2 linked regions of the Homo sapiens genome follow. The protein of the gene in region 1 purifies or fractionates together with the protein of each later gene. This does not show direct contact. Each region holds a gene or a part of one and is shown on either strand. Other genes may lie near its edges.

Region 1 (12,944 bases):
CCAGGCTGGAGTGCATTGGCGGGATCTCAGCTCACTGCAATCTCCAAGTCCGGGGTTCAAGCCATTCTCCTATCTCAGCCTCCCGAGTAGCTGGGATTACAGGCACATACAACCACACCCAGCTAATTTTTGTATTTTTAGTAGAGACAGGGTTTCACCATGGTGGCCAAGATGATCTCAATCTCTTGACCTCGTGATCTACCCACCTTGGCCTCCCGAACTGCTGAGATTACAGGCACGAGCCACCATGCCTGGCCTTCACATTTGAGACAGAGTTTCGCTCTTGTTGCCCAGGCTGGAGTGCAATGGTGTGATTTTTGGCTCACTGCAACCTCTGCCTCCCAGGTTCAAGTGATTCTCCTGCCTCAGTCTCCCAAGTAGCTGGGATTACAGGCATGCGCCATCACGCCTGGCTAATTTTTGTATTTTTAGTAGTGACGGGGTTTTACCATGTTGGTCAGGCTGGTCTCGAACTCCTGACCTCAGATGATCCACCTGCCTTGGCCTCCCAAAGTGGTGAGATTACAGGCACGAGCCACTGTGCCCAGCCTTAAGTCGAAATTTATACAAATTTTTTGGAAGGCAATTGATAATGTTTATATGGTAAGACTGCACTTTGTATGTAAAAACAGATATTGCGTATAGATGTGCAACTTCTTTTAGAAAATTTTCCCACAGGGGTAAATATTATTTAATCTTCCTTTTTTATCTTTCACATCTGGTTATTTTAAAATAAAGCTTACAGCATTAAAAAGAAAAAAATTTGTTGGCATAGAAACAAGTTTGTTTTGATTTTTGAGACAGAGTCTTGCTCTGTCACCCAGGCTGGAGTACAGTGGCCCAATCTCGGCTCACTGCAAGCTCTGCCTCCCGGGTTCACACCATTCTCCTGGCTTAGCCTCCCAAGTAGCTGGGACTACAGGCGCCTGCCACCACGCCTAGCTAATCTTTTTTTTTTTTTTGTATTTTTAGTAGAGACAGGGTTTCACCATGTTAGCCAGGATAGCTTTGATCTCCTGACCTCATGATCCACCCGCCTCGGCCTCCCAAAGTGCTGGGATTACAGGCGTGAGCCACCGTGCCTGGCCCATAGAAACAAGTTTGATGGCCAGGCACGGTGGCTCACACCTGTAATCTCAGCACTTTGGGGGTCCGAGGCAGGGGGATCACAAGGTCAGGAGTTCAAGACCAGCCTGGCCAACACAGTGAAACCCCATCTCTACTAAAAATACAAAAATTAGCTGGGCATGGTGGCGCATGCCTATAGTCCCAACTACTTGGGAGGCTGAGGCAGGAGAATTGCTTGAACTCAGGAGCCGAGAATGTGCCACTGCACTCCAGCCTGGGCAACAGAGACAGACAGAAAGAAAGACAGAAAGAAAGACAGACAGAAAAGAAAGAAAGAAAGAGAAAGAAAGAAAGAAAGAGGGAAAGAAAGAAAAGAAAGAAAGAAAGACAAAAAGAAAGAAAGAAAATTATTTTTAAGTTAATAAACATACGCCAGCATCTTTTTCTTTTTCATCCTCCTTGTCATCTTTGTCTTTTTTCTTCTCTTTAGAACTTTCCCCACCATCAGTTTTCTCTTTGGACCTAGATCTACCAAAAAAATAAAAGAGACAAGAGAAATGTCATTCATTTGTACTTAGAAACATTCATTTTTAAATACTTTTTTTTTTTTTTTTGAGACAGTGTCTCACTCTGTCGCCCAGACTGGAGTGGAGTGAAATGGTGCGATCTCAGCTCACTGCAACCTCCACCTCCCGGGTTCAAGCGATTCTCCTGTCACAGACTCCCGAATAGCTGAGATTACAGGTGCCAGCCACCACACTCATATAATTTTTGTATTTTTAGTAGAGACAGGTTTTCACCATGTTGGCCAGGCTGGTCCTGAACTTCTAACCTCAGGTGATCTGCCCACCTCAGCCTCTCAATGTGCTGGGATTATAGGCATGAGCCACCTCGCCCGGCCTTAAAATACTTTTACAGGTGGGGTAAGGTGCCTCACACTTATATACCCAGCACTTTGGGAAGCCAAGGCAGGAGGATCAATTGAAAACAGGAGTTAAAGAGATCAGCCAGGGGAACATAACAAGATCCAATCTTTCCAAAATATACTAAGAATTAGCTGGGTATGGTGGTGTGCACCTGCAGTCCTACCTACTGAGGAGGCAGAAACAAGACGATCACTTGAGCCCAGTAGTTCGAGGCTGCAGTCAGCTATGATCCCATCACTGCACTCAAGCTTGGGTGACAAAGTGAGACCCTGTCTCTTTTTAAAAAAAAAAAAAAAAAAAAAAAATTTGGTCAGGCATAGTGGCTCATGCCTGTAAGCTCAGTATTTTGGGAGGCCAAGGCAGGAAGATCACTTGAGCCCAGGAGTTCGAGACCAGCCAGGATAATACAGTGAGACCTCGTCTCTATTAAATTAAAACAAAAAATACATAAGTACACTTATTAGACTTGTATTCCAATATTTAGGTAAGAAATAAACTTCTAAGAGTCAACTGTGTTTTCATATTCCATTAACAAACACCTGGAGGCTGGGCATGGTGGCTCATGCCTCTAATCTCAGCACTTTGAGAGGCCAAGGCAGGCAGATCACGAGGTCAGGAGATCGAGACCATCCTGGCCAATATGGTGAAACCCCAACTCGGCCGGGCGCGGTGGCTCACGCCTGTAATCCCAGCACTCTGTGAGGCCGAGGCAGGTGGATCACATGAGGTTAGGAGTTCTAGACCAGCCTGACCAACATGGTGAAACCCTGTCTCTACTAAAAGTACAAAAATTAGCCGGGCTTGGTGGCAGGCGCCTGTAATCCCAGCTACTCAGGGGTGGGAGGCCGAGGCAGGAGAATCACTTGAACTCGGGAGGCGGAGGTTGCAGTGAGCCGAGATTGCACCATTGCCCACCAGCCTGGGAGACAAGAGCAAAACTTCACCTCAAAAAAAAAAAAAAAACAAACAAAAAAAACAAACCCCGTCTCTACTAAAAAATACAAAAATCAGCTGGGTATGGTGGCACGTGCCTGTAATCTCAGCTATTCAGGAGGCTGAGGCAGGAGAATAGCCTGAACCAGGGAGTCAGAGGTTGCAATGAGCTGATATTGCACAACTACATTCCAGCCTGACGACAGAGCAAGATTCTGCCTCAAAAAAAAAAAAAAAAAAAAAACCTTGAAAATATAACGAAAAAAATTAATCCCATGACACTAATGGGAAGCATTACTAAATATTTGGAAATTCAACCCAAGAAAAACTGAACATACTACATACAAACAATATAGTTTGTTTATAGGTAGGATAGTTAAAATGTGATAAATGAAGAAACAGACCAATATATTAATATTCTGCAAGATAATTTATATATGTAATAACGTTTAAAATCCCAAGGGACATGCATTTCGAATGTTCTAATGTTCTAATGATTTTAGGGGATTTTTTTGAGACGGAGTCTCTCTCTGTCGGCCAGGCTGGAGTGCAGTGGCGCAATCTCGGCTCACTGCAACCTCCACCTCCCGGCTTCAAGTGATTCTCCTGCCTCAGCCTCCCGAGTAGCTGGGATCACAGGTGTGTGCCACCACACCTGACTAATTTTTTACTTTTAGTAAAGACGAGGTTTCACCATGTTGGTCAGACTGGTCTCAAACTCCTGACCTCGTGATCCATCCACCTCGGCCTCCCAAAGTGCTAGGATTACAGGCGTGAGCCACTTCACCCAGACTTCTAATGATTTTTTAATGTTAAAATAACCTGCCATTCTTGGAATAAACCCAACTTGTTTACGCACCCCAACTTACGGCATCTCATAATGAATAAAATTTCTTAATTTTAATGTAATCAAATTAGTCAACCTTTTTTCTCCTTTATAATTGGTGCTTTTTAAAGTAGTTTAGAAATCCTTCCAGATTTGATGTAAGATACCTAGAGGTGAAGAAGAAGATACTCTCTGGCACAAACTTCTAAAAGGTTTAGAATTTTGCCATCTAATTTGGTCTTTGCTTGGAATTGCTTTTTGTACACAGAATAAGGTAGGCAGTCTTATTTCATAAAAGGATACTAGATATCCCTAGAGCAATTTAAAAATTTTTCTGGCCAGGCACGGTGGCTCACGCCTTTAATCCCAGCACTTTGGGAGGCCGAGGCGGGTGGATCACGAGATCAGGAGATCGAGACCATTCTGGCTAACACGGTGAAACCCCATCTCTACTAAAAAATACAAAAAATTAGCTGGGCATGTTGGCACACACCTGCAGTCCCAGCTACTCGGGAGGCTGAGGCAAGAGAATTACTTGAACCCGGGAGGCGAAGGTTGCAGTGAGCCGAGATTGCACCACTGCATTCCAGCCAGGGCAACAGAACGAGACTTTGGCTGTTAAAAAAAAAAAAAAAATCTTCACTTATTACATCATCACCTCTGTCATCTATCAAATTACCATGTGTATGGATGCCTTTCTGGGCTCTTTACATGGTTCACTAATCTGTCTGTCCACTGCTAAACAAATTGCACATTGTCTTAATTTCTGTTAACTTTTTTTTGTTTTTTTTTTTTGAGAAGGAGTTTCACTCTTGTTGCCCAGGCTGGAGTGCAACGGCATGATCTCACCTCACCGCAACCTCTGCCTCCTGGGTTCAAGCGATTCTCCGGCCTCAGCCTCCAGAGTAGCTGGGATTACAGGCATACGCCACCACGCCCAGCTAATTTTGTATTTTTAGTAGAGACGGGGTTTATCCACAATGGTCAGGCTGGTCGCCAACTCCCAACCTCAGGTGATCCGCCCACCTTGGCCTCCCAAAGTGCAAGGATTACAGGCGTCAGCCACCGCGCCTGGCCTAATTTCTTAACTTTTAAGACAAGTCTTGGCTGGGCGCGGTGGCTCAGGCCTGTAATCCCAGCACTTTGGGAAGCCGAGGTGGGCAGATCACTTGAGGTCAGGAGTTCGAGACCAGCCTGGCAAACATGCCAAAACCCCATCTCCACTAAAAACATAAAAATTAGCTGGGATATTATGTCTGCCTCTTCATATAATCCCAGGACTTTTGGAGGCCTAGGTGAGAGGATTGCTTGAGTCTACAAGTTTAAGGTTAGTGAGCTATGTTCTTGCCACTTCACTCCAGCCTGGGCAACAGAGTGAGACCCTGCCTGAAAAGAAAATGACAGAGTTTCTACAAAGATGTCTATAAAATACATTTCTGATTGACAGTTATGTATTAAGTAAGAATACAATGTATTGAATGTTAAAACTGACAGAATCTATTATTTTCCAGTTGAATTATAAACATTATAGCCAATTAAAATAAAACACTGCCAACAGTTCATGGTAGGAGCCAAATGCAGTTAATTCTCTATAAATACAAACTTACAGGGAAAAAAAAAAAAGGCGCAGAGAAGGGAAGCAGTCCCCAGTCTGCACTATAGATGCAGCCCAATGATAACATTACCTATTCTCAGTTTTCTTGCTTTTATTTCCAGGACTGGAGGATCGGGATCGCCGGCCCCGGCTTCTACTCCTTGAGCGTCTCCTGTCTCTACTTCGAGATCTTCTTCGCTCTCGGCTTCTGTCTCTCTCTCTACTTCTGGAACGTCTGAAAGGGGGACACTTTTCATTTATTCTATGACCAAATGGAGCTACTATTTCAGATCAGGGGATTCTGTCCCACATTGAAAGAATCTTAATCACTACCATTATTAAAGGTGGAGGTCTCAATGAAGTAAAGCCAAGTCTTATAAGTGCTCAACGAAAAAAATGAGAATACTAATTTATTTCTTTCATTTTTTTAAAGACAAAGTCTCACACCTGTCACCCAGGCTGGAGTGCAGTGGCACAATTGCAGCTCACTGCAACCTCTGCCTTCTGGGTTCAAGTGATTCTCCTGCCTCAGCCTCCCCAGCAGCTGGGATTACAGATGTGCATCACCATGCCCGGCTAATTTTTTTTTTTTTTTTGGAGACAGAGTTTTGCTCTTGTTGCCCAGGCTGGAGTGCAATGGCGCAATCTCAGCTCACCACAACCTCCATCTCCTGGGTTAAAGCGATTCTCTTGCCTCAGCCTCCTGAGTAGCTGGGATTACAGGCATGCACCACCATGCCCAGCCAATTTTGTATTTTTACAGATGGGGTTTCTCCATGTTGGTCAGGCTGGTCTCGAACTCCCAACCGCAGGTGATCTGCCTGCCTCAGCCTCCCAAAGTGCTGGGATTACAGGCGTGAGCCACCATGCCAGGCCAGAGAATACTAATTTCATAAAGATGTTTGTGAAAAAACCATAATAAGTCTGTAATTAACATCGATTGAAAATCGATGGTCTAAGATAGAATATCTAGTTTCAGATAGCCTAAACCTAAGTATAAGGATGGGCATAATGGGTCTACTAAAAGATCACTAATCTGAAGATGAAGAGGCAAGAATTTCTATCCTGCTACTCCTGGTAACTAATGACATGATGAAGGTCAGATCTCCAACTTTCTGGGTCTCAGTTTCATCATCTATAAAATATGGAGACTTCACTAGACATCTTTAAAATCCCTCTTGCTCTAAAATCTTGTGATTCTACTTTCACACCCAAAAGTCAAAGACCAAATGTTAAATAACCATTTTCACTTAAGTACTTGAATTAATTGTGTGAAATTGTTCCTAGGACCACAAAATGTGAAAATGCTATCCACATTGTCACGGGTGAATATTTTCCCTGAATCCTACGTAACAACAATGTACTCCAATGTCTGAAAAGGATAAAGTTAAATTCTTTCTATGATCCACTCACAACACAATCTTGTCTTCCTTTCCTATTTTAATGAGAAACTGGGCAAGGTATGGTATCTCATACCTGTAGTCCCAACCCTTTGGGAGGCCACTAGCAACACAGTTAAGACCCCCATCTCTATGAAAAGCTTTTTTTAATTGGCTGGGTGTGGTGTGCACAGAAGATTATTTTCTTTTTTTCTGTTTTGAGATGGAGTCCTGATCTGTCGCCCAGGCTGGAGTACAGTGGCACCATGTCGGCTCACTACAACCTCCACCTCCCAGGTTCAAGCAAGTCTCCTGCCTCAGCTTCCCGAGCAGCTGGGTTTACAGGCATGCACCACCACACCTGGCTAATTTTTTTTTTTTTTTTTTTTTTAGTAGAGACGGGGTTTCACCATGTTGGCCAGGCTGGTCTCAAACTCCTGACCTCGTGATTCACCCACCTTGGCCTCCCAAAGTGCTGGGATTACAGGCATGAGCCACCATACCTGGCCAACTTTGTCACTATTAAAAATACAAAAATTATCCAGGCTTTGTGGAGCATGCCTGTAATCCCAGTTACTCAAGAGGCTGAGGCATGAGAATCACTTGAACCCGGGAGGCAGAGGTTCCAGTGAGCCTAGATCGTGCCACTGCACTCCAGCCTGGGTGACAGAGTGAGACTCTGTCTCAAAAAAAAAATAAATTAAAAAAAAAAAAAAGATTAAGGCGCTCTTTAGTTTAAATCTATGACAGCTCATTAAAATAGTTTAAGAGGCTTGGAGAGGGTCTGCTTTGTTTCCTTTTTCTGCCTGCTTTAGAGGCTGCTCTAAACACACTGTTTAGCAAAATGAAGAAAGAAAGAGAAAGAGAGAAAGAGTGAGGGAGGAAGGGAGAGAGAGTGGAAGGGAAGGAGATAGGGAGGAAGGAAGAGAGAGATGGAGGAAGGGAGGGAGGGAAGGAGGGAGAGAGGAAGGAAATTTTACAAATTTCAACAAGGGTGGCAAAAAAAAAAGGAAAGAAAATTAACACCTTGGTCAGCTCTCCTGGAGCAGAATTGGAATAGAACCCTCTTGAATATAACTTATTACTTTACTTTTTACTTCATTTTGTATGTCCCTCAGAGGGCTTCAAGGGATGTCTTTGGGTTACAGGAAATACAGCCTAAAGTTTCCAAACTAAAAACACTGTTTGATGGTCGGACACGGTGGCTCACACATGTAATCCCAGCACTTTGGGAGGCCAAGGTGGGAGGATCACATGAGGCCAGGAGATCGAGAGCAGCCTGGCCAACATGGCAAAACACCGTCTCTTTTAAAGACACAAAAATTAGACAGGTGTGGTGGTGCACATCTGAAATCCCAGCTACTTGGCAGGCTTAGGCATGAGAATCGCTTGAACCCAGGAGGTGGAGGTTGCAGTGAGCAGAGATGATACCACTGCACTCCAGTCTGAGCAACAGAGTGAGGCTCTGTCTCAAAAAAGATTAAAAAAAAAAAAAAACACTGTTTGATAGAGTCTTTGTAGGCACATCCTTCTGGGTCTAATCAAACAAGTAGGGGATAAAGAAAAGGGCCTGCAATTGGGCCACCAAACTCCAGTTGAAAACATACTTTTCAAGAAGCCTGCTATAGCCGAGAAGGCCCAATTTATCACTCGTCTTTTGGAAATTAATTAATGTCTTACCTCAGACGCTTCCTGTCCCTTGACCGAGATCTTCTTTTATCCCTGCTACGAGACCTCTCTCTCCTCCTATCTCTATCTCTACTTCTAGACCGTCTGTCATCTCCACGTTTACTTCTTTTGTCTGAGGGTGAGCGACTTCTAGACCGACTTCCAGAGCGACCCCGGGATGCCGATCGTTTTCGATAGTGGCTAGAACAATAAGTCAAAGATTAAGTTCAGCAAACACCATTAGCTTCTATTACATTTTATTACATTTTTTCTAAAAATAATTTCAGCAGACAAATTTAACACTCAAAGAACTTTTTATGAATTTTTCTAAAATTAGGAGGGAAAAAATGAACCCTTCTGCTTCAGCACAGACACATGTAGAGGTGGAAAATCTGTCTTGAAAGAGAGGCAAGGACAGTGAACAAAACAGACCAAGCTCCTGCCTTTGAGCTCCAGGCAGCTTACACTCCGGTAAAGGAAAAGACGGCAGACAAGTGAAGAAACAAACACTGTATATAGTATGTTTATATACAATATAAATATGACATTTGTTACAGAGGCTTGGAGGAAATAAAGGAGCCATGTAGATATACAGGGAATTTTCCACGCAAAAGGCACAAGTGCAAAGTCCCTAAAGAGGAAGCTTGACTGGTGAGTTTAAGGAACAGCAAGGATGCCAGTTGTGGCTAGTGTTGAAAGAGTGACACAGCGTGCCATAAGACGAGGTCAGAAAAACAGCAGGGAAGCCAAACCTGGAAGGCCTTACTGGCCATTATATAAGGACTCTGTCTTTTACACCAAGATGAAAATCTACTGGAAGACTTTAAGCAGAGGAGTGACACAACCTCATTAATGTTTTTATTTTTATTTTTAGAAACAGGCCTCACTCTATTATCCAGGATAGAGTGCAGTGATGTGCTCACAGTTCACTGCAACTTCAACTCTCTGAGGCTCAAGCAATCCTCCCACTTCAGCCTCCCAAGAAGCCGGAACTTCAGGCATGCGTCACCACACTTAGCTAATTATTATTATTATTTTTTTTTTTTGAGAAAGAGTCTGGCTCTGTTGCCTAGGCTGGAGTGCAGTGGCACAATCTCAGCTCACTGCAAGCTCCACCTCCCGGGTTCACACCATTCTCCTGCCTCAGCCTCCCGAGTAGCTAGGACTATAGGCGTCCGCCATTACGCCAGGCTAAATTTTTTTTGCATTTTTAGAAGAGATGGGGTTTCACCATGTTAGCCAGGATGGTCTCGATCTCCTGACCTCGTGATCCACCTGCCTCAGCCTCCCAAAGTGCTGGGATTACAGGCTTGGGCCACTGCGCCCGGCCACTCAGCTAATTATTTTTATTTTATTTTATTTATTTTTTTTGAGACAGAGTCGCACTCTTGTTGCCCAGGCTGGAATGCAATAGCACCATCTCAGCTCACTGCAACCTCTGCCTCCCAGGTTCAAGCAATCCTCCTACCTCAGCCTCCCAAGCAGCTGGGATTACAGGCCTATACTACCACGCCCAGCCAGTTTCGTATCTTTAGTAGATGAGGCAGTTTCACCACATTGGTCAGGCTGGTCTGGAACTCCTGACCTCAGGTGATCTACCTGCCTCAGCCTCCCAAAGTGCTGGGATGGATTACAGGCATGAGCCACCGCATGCAGCCTTTTTATCATTTTTTTAAATTTCTTTTTTGAGACAAGGTCTCACTCTGTCACCCAGGCTGGAATGCAGCAGCTCAATTGCTACTCACTGTAACCTCAACCTACTGGGCCCCAGCAATCCTTCCACCTCAATCTCCAGAGTAGCTGAGACCAAAGGCACACACCACCGCGCCCACCAATTTTTTTTTTTTTTTTTTTTGGGTAGAGATGGTGTCTCACTATGTTGCTCAGGATTGTCTTAACCTCCCGGCCTCAAGCATCTTCCCACCTCAGCCTCCCAAGTAGCTGGGACCAAAAGCATAAAAGCGTGTGCCACTATGCCCACCTATTTATTTCTTTTTATTTTTCATTTTTGTAGAGATGGAGTCTTGCTATGTTGCTCAGGATGGTCTCAAACTCCTGGGCTCAAGCAATCCTTCCACTTAATGTAATCCCAAAATGCTGGGATTACAGGTGTGAGCCACTGCACCTGGCCTAATGTTTTTAAAGTATTATTCTGGTTGCTGAGAGAACAAACCAAACAAAGGGAGGCAAGGACAAAAGGAGAAAGAATAGGCAGGATTAGCAAAGACCAGCACTATAGCAATCATCCAGGCATGAGATAGTGGTGGCATAGATCAAAATGGAAGGTGGAAAGATTTTGAGAAATATCAAAATCTGGATATCTTGAAGCTAGCACCGATGGGATTTAATGATGAACTAAATGTCAAGTGTGACAGCAAGAGAGAAATCACTCAGTTGCCATTTACCAAGATGGGAAGGCTGAGGGAGAAATCCAGGGAGAAGGTGGATCAGAATATTAGGTATCCAAGTGGAGATATATAGTATATAGTTGAAATATTAGCCTGTAGTTCAAGGAAGAGGTTTCTCTAGAAATATAAACTGGACAGCTATTAGTGTACAAAGGCTATTTAAAGCTATAAACCTAAATAAGATCACTAGGAGATGAATGCACCTGATTATCTCTCAAGCACCTCAAGTTCAATCTGTAGAAACCCAAACTTGTTACCCTTCCCTCCCCAAACGATTAATCGTACCAACTTCCGGTCACTAGGCTCAAAACATTAGTCATCATCAATATTTTTCTCTTGCTCTCATTCGATACAATAAATAAAACACCAATTGGCTGGGCACAGCGGCTCATGCCTGTAATCCCAGCATTTTGGCAGGCCAAGGTGGGCAGAGAGCTTGACCTCAGGAGTTGAGACCAGCCTGGGCAACATGGTGAAACCCTGTCTCTACAAAAAATACAAAAATTAGCAAAGCGTGGTGGCACACGCTTGCAGTCCCAGCTATTCGGGAGGCTGAGGTGGGAGGATCTCTTGAACCTGGGAAGCATAGGTTGCAGTGAGCCAAGATTGTTTCAATGCACTCCAGCCTGGGAGACAGAGCAAGTCCCTGTCTCAAAAACAAAAAAACAGGCCGGGTGCGGTGGCTCACGCCTGTAATCCCAGAACTTTGGGAGGCCGAGGCGGGTGGATCACAAGGTCAGGAGATCGAGACCACCCTGGCTAACACGGTGAAACCCCGTCTCTACTAAAAAATACAAAAATTAGCCTGACGCGGTGGCAGGCGCCTGTAGTTCCAGCTACTCGGGAGGCTGAGGCAGGAGAATGGCGTGAACCCTGGAGGCGGAGCTTGCAGTGAGCCGAGATCCCACCACTGCACTCCAGCCTGGCGAAAGAGCGAGACTCTGTCTCAAAAACAAAAACAAAAACAAAAAAACAACCAAGTAATACCAATTTCACCTCTGTAATTCCCTTCACATTATATCACCTCCACAGAGTTCCAACCGTCACTATTCTATATCAGACATATCTACCTAGGAGATTCTTAAAGACTGTAGTCTTCCTGTTTCTATTACTTTTCCATTAAATCTTACTCATTGCTGCTAAGGAGAATTCTGATTCTATTACACACTTTTTACTCAAAATCTTCAAAGGTTCACAAACAAATTCTGATCTTCAAAATCTACAATCCACCCGCTTTCTGGGCCCAAGTCCTATTCAGGACCTACCTCCTACTACTTCTCAAAAAAGATAAAATCCCTTCATGAAACCTACATATGCAGAAAAATTGGGCTTTTTAGCTATTTCTCTAACACCTTGCGCCTTCCCACCTCTAAGCCTTTCATGATTCCCTGAACAAACCTAGAGCACAGGCCATGCACACCAGAGAGGTAAAGGAGAAGGCTGACGGGCTAGAATGGACCTTCTTGTGAAGGGCCTTGAAGGCTGTCATAGAGTTTAAATTTCATCTTGGAAGCAGTAGAAACCAATGGAGACTAAGTCAGGGGCATGCCATCATCTTATCTCTACTTCAGAAGTGTCACTCTGGCTGTAGTGTAAGGGATCTAACAATTAGGAGAGCAACAGAGGAAGACAATCAATTCAGAGAATCAATTTAAAACAGATGTAGTAGTCTGGACAATAAATAATTAGGGCCTCAATTAAGTCAGGGACAACCAGAATGGGCAAAGGATGTAGAATCTAACAGGCTGTGGGTAGTGAGAGAGAAGAATGAGTCAAATAAATATCACTTTCAGATTTCTGGTCTGGACAGCCTTCCGGAGATTTAAAACACCGTCACAGGAATTTTCTGTAGTTAAAGAAATATTTTTTATCTTCATCCAGGTGATGATTACACGGTTTATATATTTGCTAAATTTCATCAAGCTTTACCCTTACGTTTTGTCCATTTCCCTGATTGTTAATTGTACCTCAACAAAGAACTGTTAGCACTAACAACAAAAGCCTTCATTGTTCCTAGACATAAAATATCTTTCAGTCATTGCTAAATACATAGCAAATAGTCATTTTTAACATAAAAATCTCAAGGTTCCTAACAATCTATCAACAATCTAAAGTTGTGATGAGATCTAATGAGTTCTAATA
Region 2 (12,944 bases), on another chromosome or scaffold:
ATCATTAGATGAAATTCAGAGAACTAGTTAGTGGAAAGGTAGAAACCTTATACTCTAGCAAAATCGCCCTCCTGCAGTCCCCCAAAACCCTGCTTTCACCAATTACTTTGAAGATATACAGCTGATATACAGCCTTCCCCTCCTTTTTACTGTAACTTAAAAAAAAAAATTCTGTTCCTGATTCTCAAAAGTTATCAGACTTAAAAAACCCTGTACTTAGTTGTCTAATTTCCAAATGAAGCTTTTTTTCTACTTACACAGCCCTCTGTGACCCTTGTCCTGGAAACGTTACACATAACTGAGCATTCACTTATCAAACATTGTCACGACTGTGCACCTTATACTTTTTGCTACTGTCTTATGTAACTGAAACTCCAAATTCTCTAGACGGAAGAAGTATTTTATATTACATTTCCGTGTCCTTCAACAGACTGTAGCACAACTACAAACACAGTGGGTATTTAATAACTCACAGAAGATGCCTTAATTTAGAGTGATCCAATAATACAGCATGAGAAGGCACTTACAAGTACATTATATAAAGCAACAGGTAAAAAAAAAAATCCTCAACAGTTTTTAAGGTAAGAAAATATATGTAGTACCTTCCATCTTTTCTATCTCTTTGCCACCTATCCCTCAGGCCTGATTCAGCATTTCCTTCTGTACTTACATTTGGTTTCATTTTCATGCTTAAAAATTTAGTTTTTAAGAAAATTTTCACCACCCCAAAAACTCCCTACCCTTTAGTTATCACTCTAATCCTCCCTATCTCCCCAGCAATCAGTAATCTACTTGGTATCTTTATAGATTTGCCTATTCTGGGCATTTCATATAAAAGGAATCACGCAATACACGGCCTTTCATGGATGTTTGCAAGTTTCATCCATACTGTAGCATGTATCAACCTTATTTATCACTGAAAAATATTCAATTGTATAGATATACCATTCTGTTTATCCATTTGTTAATGGATAGTTAACTTTTTGGCTATTATGAAATAATGCCACAAACATTCACATAAAAGTTTTTCTGTGAAAATGTTTTCATTTTCCCCCAGGGGTACAACTGGTGGGTCAAAAACCTCTATGTTTAACATTTTTAGGAAATGCCAGACTGTTTTCTAAAACACCTGTACCAGTTTATATTCATACTAGCAATGCACAGGGTTCTAATTTCTCCACATCCTAATCAACACTTACTATCATCTGTCAGGCTCAGCTATCATCTGTCTTTTTGATTTATAACCATCCTAGTGACTGTGACATATCTCACTGTGGTCTGGTTTGTATTTCCTTGGTGACTAATGATGTTGAACAGATTTTATGTACTTACTAGATATTTGCATATCTCCTTTGGAGTAATGGCTACAGATTCTTTGCCATTTTTAAATTGGGTTGCCTGTCTATTGCTGAGTTCTAAGAGTTCTTAATAGAGAATATATAAAGAATTTTCTAACTAGCACTCTAGGTTTTTACTTTCTTGATAGTATCCTTTGAAATACAAATGTTTTAACTTTTGGTGAATTCCAAAATTTTCTTTTCTTCTGTTGCTTATGCTTTTGAAGTCATATCTAGGAAACCACCAAGCTCATGGTCTTAAAGATTCACTTTTGTTTCTTTCTAAAGGTTTTATAGTTTTGGCTCTTACATTTAGGTCTTTTATACATTTCAGTTATTTTTTTTTATATGGCATGAACCTTCTCCTAGTGAATTTAAGTAATGTTGATGAATAAAACAAGCACTGCAGCAAAACATGTGAATGAGATCTGAAAAATGGAATGAAGTCCAGCCCTTACTATCATATAAATCCCAAATTAAGTATGAAAATGTGCTTTTTGTGCAGTAAGGTCTGCAACATTTCAATTTTCACTGACAGCTTAAAGATAGAATTAGTCTAAGAATGACACAAACCAGAACCTGCATTGCTTCCCATTAATTCAACAGTCATTAAAAGGGATAGAAAAATTCTCAAGTACTAACATGCAGATGATAAATATAGCTTACTATAATAAGCTTACTTAATGGAACAATTCAGTATGGTTTAGCCATTAAAACTTAAACTATAAAGAGAAAAACTCACCTCTCTTGAATTCCATGTTACTTCAAATATACTCTAGACCATAAAATATTAAGTAAAAAGAAAAATAAACTACATTATTCTTCACAAATTGCCTTTTAAAAACTTTAAATAACAGCAAAATGTAACTTTTTTCAACACTGAAATACTTATGTTCTGGAAAAGACTTCATACTGACAGCGTACTGATACTGTTAGAAGCAAAGTTAAAAAAATAATTGCCAAGAATTCACAATGCCACCTTACCTGCTTGCACTTCTAGAACGTCTGGCTGTGCTGTAACTTTTTGGTGGTGTTTTAGAACGTTTCTTTTCTTTGTCTTCTTTCTTTTTGTCTCTAACAAATGAACACAATTTATGAATGCATTAGAAGACTCAGCTGATGCCAATTTATATAGCACTACAAACACAAAAATATAATCAGATCTAATCCCATCCTTAAAAGCATAAATGTTGTTCTGACAGAAACTGTTTTAAAAATAATACTTTATGTGGCATATTTGAAGTACAATAACTTCTTTTAAAATCCTATTATCCTAGGTTTTCTCCCAAGTAGACTAAAGTAGACTATGGGTGAGAAAATAACTAGGATGTTGGCTTGAAATATACTTGGTAAACACCAATAAGTTAACTATCTCTAGGCTCCTCAAGACTCCTTTTTCTCTCAGCTGATTACCACTTTCCCAACCCACCTCTCCTATCAGGCCAAAACCCATAGAGCACTACCAAAATCCATCAATATCATGAATATTCTTCCAAGACACACATCCCATGTCAACCTCTATCATGGATCAAGCAAGCTTCTTTTTCTGCGGCTATTATGAACTATTCAGGGCTTATTAGAAAATATCAACAGATTTTGACTACAGCCGTAACTCAATTTTTTTTTTTTACAGATTCCTATAAATTTTTACTCCTCACAATATTTTTTCCCCAAGATCATCATTCTCCCCAAGACTCTAAGCAAAGAGTAGATAAACGATATATATTTGTTGAATGAGAAGTCTCATAACAACCCCCCTCTTTAACTATTCTCTAATTTTAAGAATCAAAGTATCCCTCTCTTACTGTTCTAAGCTAATCTTTCCATTCTGCATTCTCAATTTCATTTTTTTCCCTTCTCTGGTCATCCTCGGTTCCCTCTTCATTCAATCTTTATCATTGGTTCCCTCTTCATTTGAATCTTTATCATCTAACTCCTAGATTACTAGAACAGTCCCCTAGTAGGTCCCAGTCATGCCTTCCATAAACTGATTCTGTACTCTGTCAGAAATCTTTTAAAGTACAAACCTGAAAATATTAATTCCCTGTTCACCATTTTCAACTCATTCCAGTTGCCTCCTGGATCAAGTGCATAGTGTGAACAACAAAGCCTTCCACGATCGGTCTCATTATATTTTTCTGACCTCATTTTCTAGTCCAACTACATCAAAATATTGTTATTTCAAGAAACACCATTCTCCACCTGAAAGCATGCCTCCCGTTGAGTCTAGTCAAATCTTTCAGAATTTAATACTCGAGTCATTCTCAAACCTCTTCCAATATCAGCAAGTAGCAATCATCATTTAACAGTTCCTCCCCTGTAATTAAATCCATCACTCTTCTCCTAGTAATCAGAAAGTCCTTAAAGAAATGCTTAATTCCTTTGTATAACTGTTCTATTAATCTACCTTGTTTGATTCACTCTGCAGCACATAAGGACTAAAAGCCCCATTATTACAGGTTTAACAATGATAGTAAAGCTACCCCCACTCTTCTGTTCTCATCAGTTGAGTTTTATGCTTCCCAAGAGTAAGTTATGTTGTGTCCCCAGCTGTACTTACTTTAATGACATGATTTAACTAAATATATAAATGAACAAAATAATGCCAAATATAGAGTTGCTTCTAGAAAATTAAGATAAATATTTTAGCAAGAGATAAAAAGCAGTTGCTAAAAAAATTAAGTGCTGTGAAATTGTATGCCTCACAACTATAAATGACTGGGGGCATACTAATTTAAAAGTGTTTGGTTCTACACGAAAAGACTGGTTTTTGAATATATTTTTAGATGGAAATAAAACGTTACGGTATTTCTTATGAAAGAAGGTAGCAGGACAGCTAACAATTCCTACTACTAAGAAATTTTACTTAGGCCCTCAGCTGTAAGCTGAAGTTTCAGTTTACAAGGAAGCACCAGAAAGCAAACGTCAGCCTCCTCAAACTCAAATATTGACAGTTTCTTCCCCTGTCTAGCCCTATTTCTCTGCCCCGCACCCCAACCACCTCTTTTGTTACTAAGTAGCACAGTACTAGGGGTACTGGGAACCCTAAAATTTGCTTTCTCACCCAATGCTATACCTTGTTTTTGATGTGCTCCTTGACCTTCTACCTCTTTCTCTGGAATGAGATCTTCTCCGCCTTGGGCTTTTGGATCGTCGCCGACTCCTAGACTTAGAATGTGACCGCCGTCTCGATCTGCTTCTTGACCGCCTAATAGTGTAAAAGGAAGCCAATACATGTGTATAAATGTAAAAAGACTATAAATTTTGTGCTTAGTATCAGACAAAAGATTCGGACATATGGACTAAACAATTAAATGGGGGATAATTCCCTTCCATTTGCTATTATTTAGCCCATAGAACAAACACCTTCAACACCTTAGAAATTAGTAATACCTTTTAACACTTGGAATTCCTCACCTTTTAATGATTTGCTCAACCTGTCAGATAGGTCCTTCTATGCCCACTGTACTTACAACTCCAAGGTTAAAAATACTACTAGATCATGAAGGAGAATAAAAGTATGACTTATTTGCATCATCTTATACAATTATATAGCATTTTAGCATGTATTTCTTATTTGATTCCTCATTAGTGCAGCTTAAACCTTCCTCATCATAAATCAAATACTTATATCACGCTATATATAAACTACAAATTGGTCTCGTAAGTCCATAAAGTAAATGCCACTATTATTTCTATTTTATAAAGAGAAACTACTTATTGTGTTGCCATCTCCTATTTCGAATTTTTCTCTGAAACAAATTCCACTCCTTTAATCCACAATTTAGGAAACTCCAGGCAATGCAGACCTTTTACAGATATATACAATTTGTATAAACTGCCTCTTTTACTCTCATTTTTCCCTGACATATCTGTTTCTCTACTCCCTGCACCGAGCCCCCATCCATTGTGTCCTGACCTGGCTCTTCCAGGACTAAGAAGCACAATTAACCTTTAGATGTTGTCATCCTCCCTACTGCATTAAAACTCATTCTCCTCTATCTTTTAAGCGATGGGGTTTTGCCATGTTGCCCAGGATGGTCTTGAACTCCTGGGCTCAAGCCACCAGCCCACCTTGGCCTCCCAGAGTTGGGATTATAGGCATTAACCACCACAACCGGCCCATTCTCTTCTATTTTAAAAATTAAAAATAAGTTGCAATCCTTTGCTTAGTCTTGATCACTTAACTTTTAGTGACCATTCAACTTCTCTCTGTGCAACATTTCAAATATAGTCTAAATTTTCTGCCTACTTTTCTTTTCAAGGTACAAGAAAGAGTATGGACATCTTAAAGACTTGTGTTAAACTCTCATTTATAAGCCAGGTAACTTAAGAGTATTATCTAACCTCTCTGACCTTGTTACTTCAGCAGTCAAGGATAGTAACACCTCTATCACCAAATAATGACAAAGATTAAATGCAGTATATAGAGTCTAGCTCGGTGCCTTAGTGTAGGCACACACAAGTGACCCTTGAATAACATGAGCTTTAACGGCATGGTTCCACCTACACACTGTGTTTTTTTTTTTTTTTTTTTTTTTTTTTTTTTTTTTTTGCCACCAACCAAATGTGGATTAAAAACAGTATTTGAAGGATGAGGAACCCATGTATAGTCAGGACTGAGTTTTCCTATATGTGGATTCCAGAGGACTTGAGTATGCATGGATTCTGGTATAGATGGATTTGTAACCAATCCCCTGCATATACGGAGGGGACTGTACATTAAATATTGATGTCCTTCTTTCCTCTTACTGATGTACTAATATAGCTTCTGTTGCCATAACTCCCTAAAACAACTGCCTCAAAACCCATAGTAATGCCTCAATAAACTATTTGAGTTATTGAACTCAATTAACTTTAATTTTAATCTCTTATTTTCAGCCATATTTGAAACTATTTACTAAACAATTCCTTGCAATAACATCTCCACATCCTAAGATGTTTTTATCTACTTAACTACCCTACCATAGGCTCCACAAAGACATGGGAAGTAAGTCTTTTCATGACTGTATTCTTGAGCAATTACTACACTGCCTGATTTAAATAAAAGGCACCAATAATATACTTTGAATGAAATATAGGCATATAAAATATCAGAATCATAACCTTAAGAGATTAAACAGTTGTTTTCAAAGGGGAATGTACTACCGTCACTTTTCTACACTTACTAGTTCATATGAGCTTTTAACCAGCAAAAGAGATTAGTGTAACATATTTTTAATAAAGTCAAAAAGCTTGTGAAAGTCATGGTCATTTAACACACTATGTGATGCTTGATACTACAACTGGGCTGGACTCAGTGGCTTGTATCTGTCACCCCAGCACTTTGGGAGGCCGAGGTGGGCAAACAGCTCGAGCTCAGGAGTTCGAGACCAGCCTGGGCAACATGGCAAAACCCTGTCTCTACATAAAAAAAAAAGGTGCAAAAATTAGCCAGGTGTGGTGGTGCATGCCTGTAGTCCCAGCTGCTCAGGAGGCTGAGGTGGGAGGATGGCTTGAGCCTGGTGGGGGTGTGGGGTGTGGGGGGTGTGTGTGTGTGGTGAGGGTTACCACAACCCACAACAATGATTTCTGTTACGATGTATTACAAGTATCTGGATTCAGGGACATATTTCACTTCTACTTTTCACTGGTCATAGTAAAGTAATTAATATTAAAATGAGAGAGTCCCAGTAAGATTTAATATAAAGAAAAAGACACAGGCTCTCCCTTTTTTTTTTTTTTTTAAGACGGAGTCTCGCTGTCACCAAGCTGGAGTGCAGTGGCGCCATCCTGGCTCACTGCAATCCCCGCCTCCGGGGTTCAAGCGATTCTCCTGCTTCAGCCTCCTGAGTAGCTGGGATTACAGCTGCGCGCGCCACCACACCCAGCTGATTTTTGTGTTTTTAGGAGAGACGGGGTTTCACTATGTTGGCCAGGCTGGTCTCAATCTCCTGACCTTGTGATCCTCCGCCTCGGCCTCCCCAAGTGCTGGGACTACAGGCGTGAGCCACCCCACCCGGCCCAGGCTCTCCTTTTTCCTAAGAGTTTGGTAAAAGGAAACACATATAAATTGTAGTAATCATGAGGTATATCCTATTGCAGAGGTTAAACTAAACTATGAGAGCACTGTCATGGAAGATTAAGACTGCAAGCATTGTATCTTGAAGAAAGAAAAAGGAGTTCCTCAAAGCGGAAATGGAAGATGTGGAAAAGCATTAGGCAGAAAGGATCATGAGCAGAAACATGAAGACATAAAGAAAATGGTATGTTGAGGCAATTAGTCCTGTAACTTTTGGAGTGGCAAATGACACGTGTAAAAAGATAAACCAGACGGAATAGTAAAGAACCCTGAAAGCCATTCTAAGGTTTTATGTATCACCTTATCAAGGCAATAAGGAACTTCTCAGTATCTGTGACATGATCTGTATTTGGGTTTCTGAAAGACAACTCTAAGAATAAGACAGTGGGATAAGGTGGGTGACAGGGAATAAACAGACATAGCATACAGGATAACCCCTGTAATACTTCAAGAAATGACTTAAAATAAGAAAATGATATTAAAAGATAAAAACAGAGTGAAAAGATCATCTCTGAGACAGAAATGTGACTTTTTAGATATTTTATGATATAAGTGCTTTTAATAGAGACGTGACAAAGTCTAGGATTCAAGTCACACTGCTCTTTCAAAAATCCTGACAATAAATAGGAGAAATGGTTTTATCTAACCCTTGGTAAAAACTAAGGGGTAACGGACACTAAGAAAAGGCAGACAACTGACAGAACTAGGTTCCAGAAGAGATGAAGCCAGGAGTGAAGGTTTAAGAGTCAAGTGGTGAATGGCCGGGCATGGTGGCTCACACCTGTAATCCCAGCACTTTGGGAGGCCAAGGTGGGTGGATCACCTGAGGTCGCGGGTTTGAGATGAGCCTGACCAACATGGAAAAACCCAGTCTCTACTAAAAATACAAAATCAGCCAGGCATGGTGGCACACACCTGTAATCCCAGCTATTCGGGAGGCTGAGGCAGAATTGCTTGAACTCAGGAGGCGGAAGTTGTGGTGAGCCAAGATCGTGCCATTGCACTCCAGGCTGGGCAACAAGAGTGAGACTCCGTCTCAAAAAAAAAAAAAAAAAAAAAAGTCCAGTGATGGAGGGGTATGTAAAGTGAAGCTGAAACTGGCTGAAGTAAATAACCACAACTGGAATATCCTAGTTCTGAATGTCAATCCTAAAGGGTTCTGACTAGAAGAACTAGGATGCAACTAGGCCAATTAGGATTGAGTTTGGAAATTAAGAAAATCGAAGAATGGCTGAAATAGTTGGTGAATAACCTAGAGCAATGGCTTTTATATTGTCGTTTGCACAACTGTGGATGCTCTAAGACCCTTTTATGGGGTCCATAAGGTCAAAATTATTTTCAAAGTAATAACAAATTATTGCCTTTTCCACTGTGTTGACGTTTGCACCAATGTCACAAAAGCCATAGTGGGTAAAAATACTGACTCTTCAACACAAATCAAGGTAGGGGCTATTGAACTGCCCTAGGAGTCACTCACTATCTTCTTCACTGGCATTTCTGTATGCACTTGCAGTAAAAGAAAAAAATAATGCCACTTTTATAAAGATGTCTTTGATGAAGCAGTAAAGTTAATTTTATTAAATCCCCCTTCAGTACTATTAATATAGTAGCAGAATTAAATCTAGTCTCTTGAGTAATATTCTGTGTGATGAAATGGAAAGTATGCATAAATCACTTCTGATGCTTATGAAGTATAATGGCTGTATTAAGGAAGACACCTGTGTTGAGTTATGAGCTGAACTAACTGCTTTTTCATTATCACCTTTGAGAATCTAGAAACTATGATTAATTAGACTTGGGTATTTGGCAGACAATTTTTTGAAAAATAAATGAAGTCTATTATATAAGGAAAATAGATGAATCTGTTGCCAATGATAAAAATCTGAGAAAATTAAATTTTGGAAAATGACTCCATTGTTGTGAGCATGCCAGATTCCTAGTACTTGCATTTTACTGATCTGATCTAAGGTGATATTACCAGATGTCACTTTTTGACACTAGATAACAAATACAAGTCAGTATTTGGAAACTTGTATAATTCAATGAATCAATTATTTTTCATTTTGTTGCTCTAGTTCCAATGCTTTCCTACCACCTCTGAATTTTTGGGGGTTTTAAAGCATAAATCATCTATTTCGTCTGTCGCTTTTCTTACTTTTTACATGTGTGAACAGTCATTCACACATTCTAACAGCAGAGGTTACTAAAACACTTTAACCAGAGGATAACAGATTAACAGCAAATTAAAAAAGATGTGACATATATAAATTATCTTTGTCTAAGGTATAATTGACTAAAAAGCAATCTAACCTGTGTCTAGAAGATGAGGGAGTCCTCCTCCTCCTAGAACGTGATCTTGATCTTGAATGCCTTCTTTTTTCTTCTTTCTTATCTATATTTAAAAGAAAAGGAACCTGCATTTAGAAGTTATTAAATAGGGGCCAGACGCAGTGGCTCATGCCTGTAATCACAGCACTATGAGAGGCTGAAGTGGGAGCAACACTTCAGTCCAGGAGTTCAAGACCAGCCTGGGCAATATAGTGAGGCCTCATCTCTACAAAAAATACAAAAATTAGCTGGGCATGGCGGTGTGTGCCTGTGGTCCCAGGTACTTGGGGAGGCTGAGCTGGGAGGATTGCTTGAGCCTGGAGATGGACGGTGCAGTGAGCTGTGATTGCACCACTGCACTCCAGCCTCGGCAACAGAGTGAGACCCCTCAAAAACAAAAACAAGCAAACAAAAAAACACATCAAATAGGAAGATTATTCCCTTTCAGAAGTTATTCTAATAATTTTTCACCTTAGTTTTCAGCTTTTACATACAACCCTTGAATGTCACAAGTAACCATTTTATAATCACGATTTTGAAGCTTACTGAAATACTATAAATTGCAAATCATCCAAGCTTTTGGTAGATCCAAATTAGACTTCTAATTCTCAGCTAGCTAAAGGTTCCTTTGCCTATTTTACTTGCCAGACTTAAGAGGCTGTGAAGTGTTTTCTGTAAAGCAGTCTATAAAGAGGGTAAATTTCTCATTCTCTGGCTCTGATTTACTCTTGACAAGGTTCTAAATGAGGGGTCCCCTTTCCTTTCCTTGATTCTTCACAGACTCAATATTTGGCCCCCAAATGCAGAAAGTCATGATTCACTCACTGATTTTAGTCCACTTCTGTGACAGAATCAGATTTTAGTAAGCTAGCTCGCTTCCTATTATCTGCTCATCACTCCTCTTCCCTACCAATTTTCAATTGTGTAAATATAGAAAGGAAATCTAGAACTACACATAAGAAATTCCTTAACTGGGGACATAACAAGAGAAATAAAGTCATTGTATTCTACATTCACTGACTATCATCAAAGTGAGATTGAGTTTCTTTTACATTTAAGTCATTTCATTAATAGGGTTCAATTTATTGTGAATGTCATTATAATAAATTCATAAAAATATTGGTAAAAACATCAGTTCATAAAGAAACTACATTCAGTCACTTTAATCATATATTTTCAATATAAACAGCAGTTAGAACACGGTGTGTCATAAACTTTACATACACCCGGCTGTGCTATCTAAAAGTTCCTACTGCTTGCCATGTAACTGTGGCTAATTATTTGACATTTTCCTGGTTAAATAACATAATACATATAAAGCATTTGGTATCAGTTTATCCACTATTATACTTTAAAATTATTTTCCTAACAATAGGCACATTAAAAAACATTCCCATTTATTAATGAACAAGATATTTATAAGAAAGAAAATCCAGGGCCATAGATCTAAATATATATGGGCAGATAATATGATATCTATTCATTTACTCTCAAAAAGACAATCTGCAAAGAAGACAACTAATTTTCTTTAAAGAAATATCATTTTAAACAGAAGCATTTTCACTAGGTTCTCTTGATCAATGAAAAAAATTAAAATTAGGCTATCCCAACTTAGAAAAACATAAATAATAAGAAAAACAAAATATCGTTTCAAGTATTAGATAATCCTACTGACATTTTGGACTAGATTAACCACTGCTGTGGAAGGCTGTGCTGTTTGTTGCAGGATATCTAGCAACATGTTGGTCCTTTGCCCTCTAGATGCAGTTGGTACTCCTGTGACCACCAGAATTGTCTCCAAATACGTCTGAGTGGCACTCCACTATACAATCTTTTATCAGAGTTTACAACATTTTAAACGACTAGGGTGTCACTCAACACAATTCCACATTTATGTCAAAATCATTTTTGCTAAGAATCACACAACAAAATTGCATAAACATTGTTTACCTGGTTCTATAGCAGCAGAAATTAGGGACTGTGCTTCTCGTACTCTTTTCATAGCTTCCTCTATTTCTTTACTAGAGGTATCCGATTTCAGACTTGGTGAAACGAGACCAGCAGCTACATGATTCAACCTGAAACAGAACCAAGAAATGGGATCTGAAATATTTTAAAATGCACACGAGCATTTCAAATAAATACTTAAGTATATAACATTATTTTAGCAAAATATTCCTTCAAAAAAAGGGAGGGGAGGACTCCATGATAACTTTGGTAAACAACATATAGCATAGCACTGTTTTGAATATTTACAAGTATTTGTTTTAATGACTAAGAGTCATCTGGAATTAGAAAAATACCTATTTTGCTGAACATCCATTAACTTTCCATAAACAAACACATTTTTAGAAATGCCAGTACAAGAAAATATGCTGATGCTAAGAACTTTTATTCATATAAATTAAAAATTTTTGGGCCGGTGTGGTGGCTCACGCCTGTAATCCCAGCCCCTTGGGAGGCCAAGGCAGGTGGATCACGAGGTCAGGAGATCGAGATCATACTGGCTAACACGGTGAAATCCCATCTCTACTCAAAATACAAAAAACTAGCCAGGCATGGTGGCAGGCGCCTGTAGTCCCAGCTATTCGGGAGGCTGAGACAGCAGAATTGCTTGAACCCGGGAGGCAGACATCGCGCCACTGCACTCCAGCCTGGGCGACAGAGTGAGATTTCGTCTCAAAAAAAAAAAAAAAAAAAAAAAAAAAAATTTATGACATAGTAATTTTTTGGGGAAGAGCATTACCTTTTACTTTGTAGGTGGGGAGGAACTGAGGCAGAGGCCAAAGGCCTACCAAAATTACACATGAAGTCTTGAGTGGAAAGGCTAAAGATGCCCCTTACAGGTTTACACATGTAAAAAAAAAATTGTAGGCCGGGCATGGTGGCTCATGCCTGTAAGCCCAGCACTTTGGGAAGCCTTGGCGGGTGGATCATGAGGTCAGGAGATTGAGGCCATCCTGGCTAACACGGTGAAACCCCGTCTCTACTAAAAGTACAAAAAATTAGCCGGATGTGGTGGCTTGTGCCCATAGTCCCAGCTACTTGGGAGGCTAAGGCAAAAGAATTGCTTGAATCTGGGAGGCGGAGGTTGCAGTGAGCTGAGTTTGCGCCACTGCACTCCAGGTTGGGCAACAGAGTGAGACTCGTCTCAAAAAAAAAAAAAAAAAGAAAAAGAAAGAAGAAAGAAAAAAAAATTATAGACAACAAATTTAGTA

Evidence for each region.
Region 2: the proteins of DDX46 (region 1) and SRSF11 fractionate together in Homo sapiens (co-fractionation; 2 studies listed by BioGRID). This does not show direct contact.

What each region holds. Positions count from the first base shown.
Region 1 is NC_000005.10:134,759,555-134,772,498, reverse strand, and holds part of DDX46 (probable ATP-dependent RNA helicase DDX46), read right to left. Parts: intron 8,596-12,944; coding exon 8,407-8,595; intron 5,583-8,406; coding exon 5,439-5,582; intron 1,597-5,438; coding exon 1,500-1,596; intron 1-1,499. UniProt on the Homo sapiens protein: Component of the 17S U2 SnRNP complex of the spliceosome, a large ribonucleoprotein complex that removes introns from transcribed pre-mRNAs.
Region 2 is NC_000001.11:70,236,285-70,249,228, reverse strand, and holds part of SRSF11 (serine/arginine-rich splicing factor 11), read right to left. Parts: intron 11,805-12,944; coding exon 11,677-11,804; intron 9,791-11,676; coding exon 9,709-9,790; intron 4,546-9,708; coding exon 4,414-4,545; intron 2,412-4,413; coding exon 2,322-2,411; intron 2,113-2,321; coding exon of another isoform or gene 2,097-2,112; exon of another isoform or gene 2,080-2,096; intron 1-2,079. UniProt on the Homo sapiens protein: May function in pre-mRNA splicing.